2 separate regions of the Homo sapiens genome follow, and region 2 is linked to region 1. The links come from fine-mapping of genetic effects on gene expression. A gene starts in region 1. The other region holds a variant in brackets. All regions are shown on one strand. Distances are between the middles of the regions. Region 1 holds the start of MAP1S (microtubule associated protein 1S). Region 2 overlaps FCHO1-AS1 (FCHO1 antisense RNA 1).

What was found. PIP is the estimated chance that this variant, and not a neighbour inherited with it, causes the effect.
Region 2: its variant is the best candidate, but not a certain one, in a credible set for the expression of MAP1S in CD8 T cells (Kasela 2017, PIP 0.81).

What each region holds. Positions count from the first base shown.
Region 1 is chr19:17,716,912-17,721,289 of GRCh38, forward strand. MAP1S (microtubule associated protein 1S) reads left to right here and starts at 2,569. Exons shown (of 7, transcript NM_018174.6): 1 at 2,569-2,709; 2 at 4,025-4,126. The coding sequence starts at 2,592. RefSeq lists enhancers at 599-1,100, 3,151-3,220, 3,611-3,760 and a silencer at 2,751-2,800.
Region 2 is chr19:17,738,039-17,742,416 of GRCh38, forward strand. The region is part of intron 3 of FCHO1-AS1 (FCHO1 antisense RNA 1); the gene reads right to left. Among named protein-coding and RNA genes, the nearest start is that of FCHO1-AS1, 11 kb to the right of the region's middle. RefSeq lists an enhancer at 825-1,325. The variant AAAATAAAT/A (reference allele first, on the strand shown) is at 2,537.

The sequences.
Region 1 (4,378 bases):
AAAAATACAAAAATTAGCCAGGCATGGTGGTGGGTACCGTAATCCCAGCTACTCAGGAGGCTGAGGCAGGAGAATCCCTTGAACCCGGGAGGCGGAGCTTGCAGTGAGCCGAGGTTACACCACTGTGCTCCAACCTAGCCTGCTTGACAGAACAAGACTCTCTCTCTCTCTCTCAGAATGATTCTGGCAAGGGCGACAGAGTGAGAATCCGTCTCAAAAAAAAAAAAAAGAAAGAAAAAAAAGAATTAGTACCAACAATCATAATTCACAGCGTGGGCAGAAGGAAGTGGATAGACTTCCATTCAGAAGCTCCTGGGTTCGAATCCTGGACCCATCCATAAATACACAAGGAAGGAAGGAAGGAAGGAATAGTGGACAAATAGGCCTTTCAGCCCATTCCAAAAGACTTTATCATATCCCTTCTCAGATGCCCAAGCCTTGTGTTGCACAAGGCCAGGGCCCCAGAGAGGCCTCAGGCTTCCAAAAGTTTCCAGCCTTATAGGGGAGATAGTGCCCGACACAGACACTCCCACTACTATTACTGCTCACAGCAATAACAGAAGAAATCACAGGCAGGCGAGACACAGGGAAGGGAGCCAAGGGGGAGGGACAAGGATAGAGGAAGGATGCCAGAACCAAAAAGAGAGAGAGGAAGTGGAGTGCAAGAATGGTAGACGGCACGTGGCCAGTGGCTGTTACACACTGGCCAGGGAGGAAGTTGGGCTGAACAACCTAGATAATAAACGGCAGCGGGAGGCTGATTCGCCTTCCCAGATCTTTCCCATTTCTGTTCTGCTTTTCTTTGCATACTCCCGGAGACAGGGAGCTCACTCCTGAGAAAGGAGGTTCAATGTTTCCTGGGCATGGACCACTGTCCAGAAGTTCCAAGCAAGATGATTTGTCAAGTAGTAGCCCCTATGGGTCAAAGGGCTAAAGGGGGCCAGGCGCGGCGGCTCACGCCTGTAATCCCAGCACTTTGGGAGGCCAAGGCAGGAGGATCACTTGAGGTCAGGAGTTCGAGACCAGCCTGGCCAACATGGTGAAACCCCATCTCTGCCGGGCACGGTGGCTCACGCCTGTAATCCCAGCACTTTGGGAGGCCGAGGCAGGCAGATCACGAGGTCAGGAGATCGAGACCACGGTGAAACCCCGTCTCTACTGAAAATACAAAAAATTAGCTGGGCACAGTGGCGGGCGCCTGTAGTCCCAGCTACTCGGGAGGCTGAGGCAGGAGAATGGCATGAACCTGGGAGGTGGAGCTTGCAGTGAGCCGAGATCGCGCCACTACCCTTCAGCCTGGGCGACAGAGCGAGACTCTGTCTCTAAAAGAAAAGAAAAGAAAAGAAAAGAAAAGAAAAGAAAAGAAAAGAAAAGAAAAGAAACCTCATCTCTACTAAAATACAAAAATTAGCAGGGCATGGTGGCGGACACCTATAATCCCGCTACTTGGGAGGCTGAGGCAAGGGAATCGCTTGAACCCGGGAGGCAGAGGTTGCAGTGAGCTGAGATTGTGCCATTGCACTCCAGCCTGGGCGGCAGAATGAGACTCCATCTCAAGAAAAGGAAAGGAGAGGAGAGGAGAGGGGAGAGGAGGGGAGGGGAGGGGAGGGAGAGGAAGGGAGGGGAGGGGAGGAGAGGAGAGGAGAGGGGAGAGAAGGGGAGGGGAGGGGAGAAGAGGAGAGGAGGGGAGGGGAGGAGAGGAGAAGAGAGGGGAGGAAAGGAAAGAAAAGCCTAAAGAGGATTATCTGGGGAGAGAGAGGTACCCATGTGCGCAACGCAGGCAGTCCCTTGCACAGGCTGGATCTAGAGTAAGACCCACTTGGGTTCAAACCTGCTCTACCACTTACAGGCCTGGTGACTTCATCCCTCCAAATCTCAGTTTCCTCTTCTTTCCTCTGAAAGTGACCACAGTAACTGTGCCTACTCATCTGTGCCTACATACAAGCACAAAACTCATCGCTTTGTGCTTGTATGTAATGAGCTAATGCAATAAAATACCTGGCGCACAGGAGGTGCAGAATAAGTGTTGCCCTGTTCCAGGCAGGCCCAGAGTGCTCCGGTTGTGTCCCAAACACACATGTACTTTCTTACCTCTAAAACTTTGCACCTGCTGTAAACTTCTGCCTCACCAGCTCTTGCCCCACCACCCACAAGGCAAACTCCTACACATCCCTTAAAGCCCTACCTACAAGATAGATTTCTTTTCTCTGTTCAAGCCCTGACCTAGAGAGCTGGGAGCATCCATAGGCACCGGGTTCTGATGCGGCCTACTGTCATGTGATGTGAGTTCCTGGAGGGCAGGAGTTCTGACCTACATGCAGCAGGCACGCAATCAAAGCTTGTTCAATGAAAAAAAAAATGAATGAATGGTCACTTGGGAGAGGCGGCTCCCAAGCGGACACCCAGGAGTCGGCCAACCCCTTTAACGCCCGCATCCCCTGCTCTCCACGACCTCAAAGGGCCTGTAAGTGGTCGACAAAAAGGGGCGGGGATGCGGTGGTTCCGGGCGGGGTCTTCAGCCCTTCCGGTGCGGCCCCTTTAAGAGGCGGGGCCTGCGGGGCGGGCGCCGAGAACGCCGGGGCGGCCCGAAGATGGCGGCGGTGGCTGGATCTGGGGCTGCCGCGGCTCCGAGCTCACTGCTCCTCGTGGTGGGCAGCGAGTTCGGGAGCCCGGGGCTCCTCACCTACGTCCTGGAGGAGCTCGAAAGAGGTCGGGCTGGCCTGGGGGCCCGCGGGAGCCCGGGAGGCGGGCCCGTTCGCGCGTCTGGGCCCGGGGCCGGCGGGGTGGGGCGGCGGCGGCGGCGGCGGCGGGACCCGGGCTCCGGGGCGGGGGTCGCGGGCCTGGGGCTGGGTCCCCTTCACCGTTAGGCGCACGACGCGGGCAAAGGCGGGGTGCCCGTGGGTGCCCGCGGAGAAAGTGGCATCCGGGCCTGGGCTGGGCAGGGCTGCCCCGCCCCAACTCCGGGTGAAGATAGGGGAGGGGACACGGGCCTGGGCTTGGGGACCCTTGCAGTTGGACCACGGCTCCGCTTCCCGCCTGACTGGCCTGCCCGGGGGTAGGGCCTGGGGTCGCTTTGGATCTCCAGGTCTTAGCAGCTTAGATAGAGATCTCCCGGAGGGAGAAGCAGATATGGGGGAGGCTGGGCCTGGAGCCCCGGGGCCCGCTTTCTGTTGCCTCACAAGGAGCTGCTAATTGGGGTGTGGGCGGGTGCGGCCTGCCCTGGGGATTTGGCACCTAGGGAGGTGAGTCATAGGCGCACCTGCCAGGTTCACCTGCAGCCACTTGGCTCAGTGGGACTGGCGGGCGTGATGCGCCCGTGGGTGGAGATGGGTGTTCATCCCCCATCCCTCGGAGCATCTGGACCTGGCGTTTCATTGCATGTAAAATGGGACAGGAACACGCACCTCGGTTCATGTGCTTGAGGAGTGTTTAGTGAGCACCTGCTATGCGCCAGGCCTTTGGGCAGTGGACACAGGGATATGGCCGGGATGATAGACAGGTTCAGCCCTGCCAACACAGGTCTGGTTTGGGGATGGACCCAAAGCGAGTGAGGAGATGGAACAAGCTTCCAGCTCACATGGTGTCAGGAAGGATGAGAAGGCTGCAAGGGACTGAGAGGACAGTCAGTCTTAGCACCCGAAGGTGCTGAGGGGGAAGGGCCCCCTGGCCAGTAGGAACAGGTGGGGGCGGCAGGGGGATGGACTTCCAGGCAGGGGAAACAGCTGTTGCAAGGGCGGTGAGTGGAAACGGGTCTGGCAGGGCATAGGAGCAGCGAGGAGGTGGAGATGGAGGAGGTGGAGGCTTTGTTGCTGATGAATCTTGTGTGTAAAATGATGAGGTGTGCTCTGGGTCCCCTGGCTCAGCTGCAGCGAGACCTGAAGGTGTTGGGTACTTCTGAGTCTCCAAGCTGTGAGTGAAGGGAGGAGGCTGGGGCGCTCCCCACCCACGGGGTGCTAATTATTGAAATATTCTGGGAGCTGGGGGGCCCGGCTGAACTCCCGCCTTGATCCCTCCTTCCCACCAGGCATCCGGTCTTGGGATGTCGATCCTGGCGTCTGCAACCTTGATGAACAGCTCAAGGTCTTTGTGTCCCGACACTCTGCCACCTTCTCCAGCATTGTGAAAGGTGAGGCTGGGGTCCCCCTGACTGCTCCCTACCTCTTGTTATTTGGGGAAGTGCCAGCCGTGTGCCAGGCATGGGGGGTGGGATGCAGCTATAAATAACAACAGTAATAATACAGTTGAGACCTTTCAAATGCAAGCCGTGACCCAGTGATAACCCCCTCAGTCCTCAGCAACCCACAGTGCAGGAACTGGTGTTTTTGTCCCTGATTGACAGATGAGGAAATTGGCATTGAAGGGGGAAGAGGCAGGGAGA
Region 2 (4,378 bases), 21 kb after region 1:
ATGCTGGGCGTGGTGACTCATGCCTGTAATCCCAGCACTTTGGGAGGCCCAGGCAGACGGATCACCTGAGGTCAGGAGTTCGAGCCTGGCCAACATGGTGAAACCGTCTCTACTAAAAATACAAAAGAAACTAACGGGGCATGGTGGTGCGCACCTGTAATCCCAGCTACTCAGGAGGCTGAGGCAGGGAGAGTTGCTTGAACCCAGGAAGTAGAGATTGCAGTGAGCTGAGATCCCACCGTCACTGAGATCCAGCCTGGGTGACAGAGCGAGGCTCCATCTCAAAAAAAAAAAAAGGAATGGGGACCAAATTAAAAAGAGAAAGCTGGGTGTGGTGTCTCATGCCCAGGAATTGGAGACTAGCCTGGGCAACATAGTGAGACCCCGTCTACAAAAGATACAAAAATTAGCTGTGTGTTGTAACATACGCCTGTAGTCCCAGCTACTTGGGAGGCTGGGGTGGGAAGATCACTTGAGCTTCCGGAGGTTGAGGCTACAGATAGCTGTGATTTCGCCATTGCACTCTAGCCTGGGCAACAGAGCAAGACCCTGTCTCAAAAAATAAAAGGGGGAGGGCGGTGCCTTGTTTACTGCAGTGTGGACTTGAGCACCAAAAACACATCATCGCCCCTGCACGTGATGCAGTCATATCACCCCCATTGCATTTCCGTATCTCTCCCATGATAACCCTCTGCCTATGAAACCTGCCCCCAAGCTCCAGCTTGAAGAGACAGATTTGAACTTCGCCTACTGTCTCCTTGCCAGTTGACTCTCAAAAAAGCTTTTTAGGCCAGGTGCAGTGGCTCATGCCTGTAATCCCAGCACTTTGGGAGGCCGAGGCAGACGCATCACTTGAGGTCAGGAGTTCAAGATCAGCCTGGCCAACATGGAGAAACCCCATCTCTACTAAAAATACAAAAATTAGCCAGGTGTGCTGGTGCACGTCTTGTAATCCCAGCTACTCTGTGGCAGAAGAATTGCTTGAACCTGGGAGGCAGAGGTTGCAGTAAGCTGAGATCGCACCACTGCACTCCAGCCTGGGCAACAGAGCAAGATTCTGTCTCAAAACAAAATAAAAACAAAAACTGTTGGAAGTTCCTCCCACTGGGCAAACAGTGTCAGGTGGGCGAGTGAAACACAAAGAAGCAACAGCCCATGGTGTGAGGTGTGGGGAGGTGGCACGCGCACCCCGAGGGCTCAGAGGAAGCCTTTTAGCGCTGCCGCCTTGGGGGTTAAAGGAGGCTTCCCAAGGATGCAAAAGGGTGAGCCTTATTAGGGAAGGGGAAGGGTGCTCCTGGAGGAGGGACCGGCAGAGGCAAAGGCCTGGTTTGCTGGAGGAACTGAGAGAAGGGTGACATTGACGCCCCCGCAAAGGGGGAAGAGTGTGGGAGGCAGCTGCCTGGAGGCCTCACTGAGCAGCTGGGACCAAATCCCATGGGGCCCTGGGGGAGGGGAGACGCAGGGGAAGCGGGCTTAAAGTGGACTTGGGAGAGGCCCGCCAGTGGAAGAGGGGTGGGGGTGGGGGTGCCAGGTCCTGGTGGGGCGTGGCCAGAGCTCATTTCTGGGAAGATGTCAGCTCTTCCCAGAGAGAGGCAGTGATGGGGCAGGGCGTGGTGGAGCCCTGCCTGGTATGGTACCTCCTCCAGGTAGCCCTCCTTGCTACCTCTTAGTCCACTGCCTGGACCCTTCCTGACTCCCTCTCTTAAAAGTGTCCTGGCCAGGCATGGTGGCTTACGCCTGTCATCCCAGCACTTTGGGAAGCTGAGGCAGGCGGATCACCAGAAGTCGGGAGTTTGAGAACAGCCTGGCCAACATAGTCACACCCCGTCTCTACTAAAAATACAAAAATTAGGGCCGGATGCAGTGTCTCACTCCTGTCATCCTAGCGCTTTGGGAGGGTGAGGTGGGTGGCTCACCTGAGGTCAGGAGTTCGAGACCAGCCTGACCAACCTGGTTAGCGGGGCGTGGTGGCACACGCCTGTAATCCCAGCTACTCTGGAGCCTGAGGCAGGAGAATCACTTGAACCCGGGAGGCAGAGGTTGCAGTTACCCGAGATCGCGTCACTGCACTCCAGCCTGGGCGACAAAAGCAAAACTCCGTCTCAAAAAAAAAAAAAAAAAATTATTCGGGCGTGGTGGTGGGTGCCTGTAATCCCAGCTACTCGAGAGGATAAGGCAGGAGAATCGCTTGAACCTGGGAGGTGAAGGTTGCAGTGAGCTGAGATGGCCTGGGCAACAAAGTGAGACTGTCTCAAAATAAATAAATAAGGCCGGGCGCAGCGGCTCAACGCCTGTAATCTTAGCACTTTGGGAACACCTGAGGTCAGGAGTTTGAGACCAGCCTGGCCAACATGGTGAAACCCCGTCTCTACTAAAAATACAAAAACTAGCTGGACGTGGTGGCGGGCGCTTGTAATGCCAGCTACTCAGGGGACTGAGGCAGGAGAATCACTTGAACTCGGGAGATGGAGGTTGCAGTGAGCCGAGATCGCACCATTGCACTCCAGGCTGGGGGACAAAAGCGAGACTTCATCTC[AAAATAAAT/A]AAATAAATAAATAAATAAATAAATAAATAAATAAATAAAGTGTCGTCCTGTCCACCAGCACATCTTCCTGTTGTATTTCCTTTTAATCCATAGCCCTAGCAGACTCTTACTTGTTTATATGTTTATATGTCAATATGTTTATATTGATTCCCCCAACTGTGAGCCCATGAGAGCTGCACCCTCTCCATCTTGGTTGTTTCTGGGTGCCCGCTGCCCAGGACAGGACCCAGTACCTGTACCCACACACCAGGTTCTTGGGAAATGTTGGTTGTGCCCCAGCTTGGCAGCACTGCTGGGTGACCTCGGGAATGTTCCTTAACCTCTCTGGGCTTCTCCTCTTCCCCAGTCTCAGAAATAAGAAAGTTGGCCTGAACCTCCAGGAAGAGCAGGGAGCCTTGGGCTGTTTTGGCAACTGGACCCCTGAGTTTTCTTCCCTGGCCTGTTCGGCCCCAGGCACTCCAGACAGGCCTGACCTATGTCATCCTGTCCTCCCCACCCCCTACAGCATCCTTTGGGATCTGGGCCCAGGGCAGGTGTGAGCTGTGGTACCAGCACACCCATGTCAAGTCCTGCCTCTGACGTGTGTTTGCTGTGTGACTTCCAAGAGTAGCTTGCTTTCTCTGAGCTCTGTTTCCCCTGGCCCAGGCTTGGGAGTGGAGTGTCTGGGGGAGTGTGGATGCAGTTCAGACCTCACCTGACAGGTGTGGATAGTACCAGGGCCAGGGCCCCCAAGAAGCTCCCAGGCTGGAGGGGGAGGGGGCAATGCCTAACATAACATCCCAGTCCTGGGGGATCAGCACTGGCTTGGAAGGAAAACCAGATGGGTTTTCAGGAGCCTGGGAAGCTAGCTGGAGGGCTTCTTGAAGGAGAGGACCACATAGGAACTAAGAGCTAAAGGTGGGAAGGAAATCTGGGATGCCAGAAGGAGGACTTCCTGGAGGAGGGGACCACATAGGAACTAAGAGCTAAAGGTGGGACGGGAGCCTGGGAGGCCAGAAGGAGGGCTTCCTGGAGGAGGGGACCACAAGAGCTAAAGGTGGGAAAGGAGCCTGGGAGGCCAGATGGAGGGCTTCCTGGAGGAAGGGACCATAAGAGCTAAAGTTGGGAAAGGAGCCTGGGAGGCCAGATGGAGGGCTTCCTGGAGGAGGGGACCAAACAGGAACTAAGAGCTCAAGGTAGGAAAGTTACCAGTCAGATGCACCCTGAGGTGGAACGGCTTTTGTGCCCCCTGCATTGAGGTGGGTAGAGAGAGGTGAGGACAGGAATGTAGGGAGGGCCGGACCCCATAAGCATGATGGGCTGCTGAGACAGGTTTGCAGTTTTTACCAAGAGTGCTGGGGAGTCTGGGGAGTGTTTCAAGCTGGAGAAAAAGGTGAGCAGTTTCTGTTTGAAACCCCACTGTGGGTCCCAGTTAAACATTCTGGAATTGCTACACACATGCACTTCAATGGAACAGCTGAGCACGTGAAGGTGATAGGACAGGCAAGCCTCAAAATTGGGGCTTAGTCTGAGAGGGTTCTTGGCTTCACCCAGGAAGGAATTTGAGGGCAAGTCAATTGTGTTAAACAGCAACTTTTCTTTTTCTTTTTTCCTTTCTTTTTTTTTTAAGATAGGGTCTCACTCTCATGCCCATGTTGGAGTGCAGTGCCATGATCTTGGCTCATTGCAGCCTCCAGGAGTCCTCCCACCTCAGCCTCCTGAGAAGCTTGGACCACAGGCACAGTCCACCATGCCCACCTAATTTTTTTTTTGAGATGGGGTCGTCTTGCTCTGTCACCCAGGCTGGAGTGCAGTGGCATGATCTCCGCTCACTGCTCCCTCTGCCTCCTGGGC